Regions from separate parts of the Homo sapiens genome. Here region 2 is linked to region 1. A link means that fine-mapping ties the variant in region 1 to the expression of a gene that starts in the linked region. Tissue or cell type: fibroblasts. Region 1 holds a variant in brackets; the other region holds the start of a gene. All regions are shown on one strand. Distances are from middle to middle.

Region 1 (2,817 bases):
CCTCACCTTCTTGACCCCGACACCGTCTGGGTTGCCCATGGCTCTGCTGCCAAAGCCAGGGTGGGCTTGGCTGGAGAGCGGAGGCCCACGTGTGTGTGCAAAGCGCTCTGTTTCCTCTGCTGAGCCTGCTGTGTGTGTCACCAAGCCTAAAACTCCACATCAGAGAGACTCGTGGCTTCACTCAAGGACAGCATCTCCTGATTCCTCCGTCAACACCTGTCTGGTGCAGGGGTGGCAGGAAGAGGCATCTCCACTCTACCTTGCCCTGATGTTGCGGTTTCAGCCAGGCCAGGCCCATCAGTAGAGGGCACAGCCCTGATTTCAACCGGAGACAAAGGCAGGGGCCATGAGCTGGGACCTGCGGTGGCTTCAGAGGCCAGAGAACAGTGAGGCCAGCCCCACAGCCAAGGGAGTGCAGAGGCTCTAAGGGGTTTCATACACAGAAAATTCAGGGTGGTGCAGGGCAAAGCTCATGCCTGCATCTTTTCCTTTTGTTTTCTGAAAAGGCAAATCCCTTTGTTCTGGGTGAGTAAGAGGTTAGGAGGTCTGGGACATGGCTCCACAGTCGGCCTAGGGAGGCGAGCCTGGGGTGTGCAGGCTTTTCTGCCCGGGTTTAATCAGAAACCCAACACTTATCTCACCCAGAGGACCAGACAGGACTGGGCTGGCCTCTGGCTGGGCTCAGCACTGACCAGGTGGCAGCCGAGAGGACAGGGACACAGCCCTGGGCCCCACAGAGCTGCTGCCGGGAGCCAGGCTGCCCTAGTGGTCCCCTCCTCCTCCGGGGTTGCCATGGCAACTGAGCAGGAGGGACCCTGCTGTCTAGCCCTGGCGCTCATCTCTTGCCTTTCCAGCCTCATCTGCATTCCAAGCCTTGGTCAGAGCCGGTGTCAGGAGCCCTGACATGGAGATGACATCCTGCCGAGACCTGACCCCGGCCCCAGTGCTGCACGTGGCAGGGATGGGTTGCTGGGATATGTGTGTGTGCGTGTGTGTGTGTGTGACTGTGGTGGGGTTGTTGCCTTGCTGAGTGTGGGTGGTGGTTGCCTTGCTCTGTGTGTGTGTGTGACTGTGGTGGGGTTGTTGCCTTGCTGTGTGAGTGTGGGTGGTGGTTGCCTTGCTCTGTGTGTGTCTGGGGGGGGTGGTTACCCTCCTGGGTGTGTGTGAGTGTGGGGGGTGGTTGCCTTGCTGTGTATGAGTGTGAGGAGTGTGAGTGTGGGATGGTTGCCTTGCGTGAGTGTGATTGTGAGTGTGGGGGGTGGCTGCTCTGCTGGGTGTGTGTGAGTGTGGGGGGTGGCTGCTCTGCTGGGTATGTGTGAGTGTGGGGAGTGGTTGCCCTGATGGGTGTGTGAGTGTGAGTGTGTGGGGTGGTTGCCCTGCTGGGTGTGTGAGTCTGAGTGTGGGGGGTGGTTGCCTTGCTTTGAGTTTGAGTGTGGGATGGTTGCCTCACCTGAGTGTGAGTGTGCAGGGTGGTTGCTCTGCTG[G/GGTGT]GTGTGAGTGTTGGGGGTGGTTGCCTTGCTGTGTGTGAATGTGAGTGTGGGTGTGGGGGATGGTTGCTCTGCGGGGTGTATGAGTGTGTGAGTGTCGGGGGTGGTTGCCTTGCTGTGCATGAGTGTGAGTGTATTGGGGGTGGTTGCCCTGCTGGGGTTGTGTGAGTGTTGGGTGGTTGCCTTGCTGTGTATGAGTGTGAGTGTGAGGGTTGGTTGCCTTATGGGTATGAGTGTGAGTGTGGGGTGGTTGCCTTGCAGAGTGTGAGTGTGAGTGTGAGGGGTGGTTGCCCTGCTGGGTGTGCGTGAATGTGGGGTGGTTGCCTTGCTGTGAGTGAGTGTGGGGGGTGGTTGCCTTCTGGGTATGAGTGGGAGTGTAGGGTGGTTGCCCTGCTGGGTATGAGTGTGAGTGTGGGGTGGTTGCCTTGCTGTGTGTGAGTGTGAGTGTGGGAGGTGGTTGCCTTGCTGTGTGTGTGTGTGAATGTGGGAGGTGGTTGCCTTGCTGTGTGTGTGTGTGAATGTGGGGGGTGGTTGCCTTGCTGTGTGTGTGTGTGAATGTGGGGGGTGGTTGCCTTGCTGTGTGAGTGTGAGTGAGTGTGGGGGGTGGTTGCCTTGCTGTGTGTGTGAGTGTAAGGGTTGGTTGCCTTGTGGGTATCAGTGTGAGTGTGAGGTGGTTGCCCTGCTGGGTGTGTATGGGTGTGAGTGTGGGGTGGTTGCCCTGCTGGGTGTGTGTGTGGGGTGGTTGCCCTGCCTGGTGTGTGTGTGAGTGTGGGGGGTGGTTGCCTTGCTGGGTGTATGAGTGTGTGAGTGTGGGTACTTGCCCTGCTGTATGTGTGAGTGCTTGGGGGGTGGTTGCCCTGATGGGTGTGTGAGTGTGAGTGTGGGGGCTGGCTGCCCTGCTGGGTGTGTGAGTGTGAGTGTGGGGGGTGGTTGCATTGCTGGGTGGATGAGTGTGAGAGTGTGGGTAGCTGCCCTGCTAGGTGTGTGAATATACGAGTGTGAGGTGGTTGCTCTATTGGGTGTGTGCTCTGGGTATGGCTAGGGCTGAGTTAGTGACATGTGCAGAGCTGTTAGGGATGTAGGTGTGGCTGGGTAAGAGACATGGGCGGGGCTGGGTGAAGGACGTGGGTGGTGCTGGATTAGGGGAGTGCGGCTGGCTAAGGGAAGTGAGTGGGGCTGGGTTAGGGACGTGGGTGGGGCTGGGTTAGGGAAGTGGGCAGGGCTGAGTTAGGGAAGTGAGTTGGGCCCTGGGTTAGGGAAATGGGGGGATTGGGTTCGGGAAGTGGGTGGGGCTGGATTAGGGGTATGAGCGGGGCTGGGTTAGGGAAGTGGGCGG
Region 2 (2,500 bases), 310 kb after region 1:
ACTTCCTGGAAAGTGCTGGCTCCCCATCCTCCTTCGAGAACTAAAGACAAGAAAACATATGTATCTTTAAACAGCCTATTGTTTTATCTCTTTTATTCTATGAAATAAAAAATTTAATACACAAATACTTTAAGCAAAATTTGCTTATAGTAAAAATTCAAGTAATAAAATTCAAATAATAGAAAGCAAAAAAATCCCACCCGTTCAACATTTCACGAGTCTTGAACACCTGTTTCCTTTGCACCCGACTTCATTAGGCTCGGAGGCCAAGCAGAACCCACAGAAAGGCTTGCCATTGTGGGAACACCCAGGCTGTCCCATTCACACACCCATTGACTTTTCCCTATAACTGTCTCCTTGAGACAAGAAATGTTCCAAAAGGGCCGGGTGCGGTGGCTCACGCCTGTAATCCCACCACTTTGGGAGGCCGAGGAGGGCGGCTCACCTGAGATCAGGAGTTCAAGACCAGCCTGGCCAACATGGTGAAACCCGGTCTCTACTAAAAATACAAAAATTAGCCGGGCGCCAGTAATCCCAGCTACTCGGGAGGCTGAGGCAGGAGAATGGCTTAAGCCCAGGAGGCGGAGGTTGCAGTGAGCCGAGATCGCGCCACTGCACTCCAGCCTGGGTGACACAGCGAGACTATCTCCCCCCGCAAAAAAAAAAAGTTTCCAAGAGCGTCTCTCCAATGTTAGTCCCAGCCTGCACCCTTCTTCCATCCCTGCTTTCACTCGCGACCCTCTAATGCAGCCCTGCCTCCAGCGACCCCCGGGATGGAACCCCTCGCCCACCCACAAAAGAGCAGCCTCGACCTAGACCCACTTTCCAGGGAATGAGCCCTGCGCCTGCGCGCACCCCGCCACCCCCTCCAGGCCGGAGTCCACGCCCACTTGGGGGAGGAGCCCCGCAGCCTCCACCTACAGGGGCGTCCCCTAAGGGGACGGAGGCCGCATGGGCCGCCGAGCCGGGAAATCTCCGCCCCCAGCTGGAGCGGCTGTGCGGGCTGCGTAGCGGTGCTGGGTCGGGCCGACGTGCCACCCACCCGGAGCCGGTGAGTGCAGCCGCCCGCCCTCCGGTAGATCTGCGGCCTGGCGGAGAAGTCGGGAGGGGACAGGAAGGGAGGGCGGGCCCCGGGCCCTCCTCCGTCTCAGCCGCCTGCGGAGGTGCTGCCCACGCCTGGAGGCCCCCACTGACCCTCAGACCCGCGTCTGCGCCCCTCTCCCCGCACCCCGAGGCAGAGTTGGGAAAGCAGTGGTCTTAGACCCCCCACCTCGGGCACTCGGAAGAGAACGGCGGAGACAACCCCTCCTCTTCCCTGGCTGGCGCAGCGCCAGCCTCGAGCTCCTCGGTAGCCCCCGGGCAGGGAGGGCCGGAGGGTGGGCGCGGCATCTTCAGCGACTCTTCGAAGTCCCTTCCGCGTCTCATCTTTCAAGGCTGTTGCAGAGGCGGCTTGCTTCCCACCTGTCCATCTCCATAAAAATCCCTAAACGAAACATGCCCACGTGTCCGGAGATTTTCAGGACTTGGTGCATTTCAGATGAAGGCTTTTCCAGAAGCTTCCCCGTAGAAGAGGATCAGGCATCCAACTGGTTAAGGTCAGCAGCGTTTGGCACGTCTCCTTCCAGCCTGGCGGTTTTGTCAGGATTCCCTGGGGAGTGTCTGGAAAGCCTGATGAGGGGAAATAGTACATCTCAGCGAATCGGCACCAGCGAGTGTAAGATGCGCGTTATTGAATGTGCTGCTGCCGAATATGAGAATGCCGAGATTGTGAGCCGTCACCATTTCTTAGATTTTAAAAGTATTCTAAAATGTTTTTTAGAATCACTGAAATATAATAGCTACCCCCTGCCCGATATCTACTTAGTTCTTTTCGATTTTCATCATAACTTATAGAGAGGCTGGTGCAGGAACAGGTGGTTAGGCAGCTGCCCCGGGTGAGGCTGGGAGTCTCCTCTGCCCGAACAGCCCGGGTGTACACCACTCAGACTGCCTCATGTAGGCGGCTGTCAGTGGACTGGGATGATTTGGGGGCAGGGAGAGTAGAGGTGGCCCTGGGAGCCCTGCGTGGTGATTAGAACAGAACCACAGCTGTTTCTCGGGGATCAGAGATAACTGTCTGTAGCTATGCCGGGCTTACCTACGTGGCTGGGGGTCTCACTTATGATTCTGAGCTCTGTCTGCGTGTTGGTCGTTTCATGCACACCTCCCCCACGCTAGTGGTCGGCGGTCCTGGAGGGCGGCATCTGGTCCCTTCAAAAGTGGGAAATAAGTCGGCAGCAGTGGGTCAGAATGGCTGTTTTTTGAGAGCGGGAGCAGGGGGACAGAGAAAGTCAGGAGGTGTTAGAGGTTCACAGTCCAGGCAAAAAGTAACAAAGGCCAGCTCCTGGTGTGGCAGGTGCCGCTCAGGAATAAAGTGGATGGTGCCCATGATGTGCTGCCTAGCACACTGTTGGTGCTTAATAAGTGTTTGCTGCATGAAGAAAGGTAAGAGGGGCTGCCT

The links. PIP is the estimated chance that this variant, and not a neighbour inherited with it, causes the effect.
Region 2: it holds the start of NEIL2, and the variant in region 1 is fine-mapped to the expression of NEIL2 in fibroblasts (GTEx, PIP 0.94).

The regions. Positions count from the first base shown.
Region 1 is chr8:11,454,152-11,456,968 of GRCh38, forward strand. The region is part of intron 1 of FAM167A (family with sequence similarity 167 member A); the gene reads right to left. Among named protein-coding and RNA genes, the nearest start is that of FAM167A, 11 kb to the right of the region's middle. RefSeq lists a silencer at 2,657-2,756. The variant G/GGTGT (reference allele first, on the strand shown) is at 1,485.
Region 2 is chr8:11,768,741-11,771,240 of GRCh38, forward strand. It overlaps NEIL2 (nei like DNA glycosylase 2), which reads left to right and starts at 970. Exons shown (of 5, transcript NM_145043.4): 1 at 970-1,595. It overlaps LOC124901888 (a long non-coding RNA gene), which reads right to left. Exons shown (of 2, transcript XR_007060824.1): 1 at 2,138-2,500; 2 at 62-1,668. RefSeq lists silencers at 781-1,190, 1,231-1,360 and an enhancer at 1,120-1,620.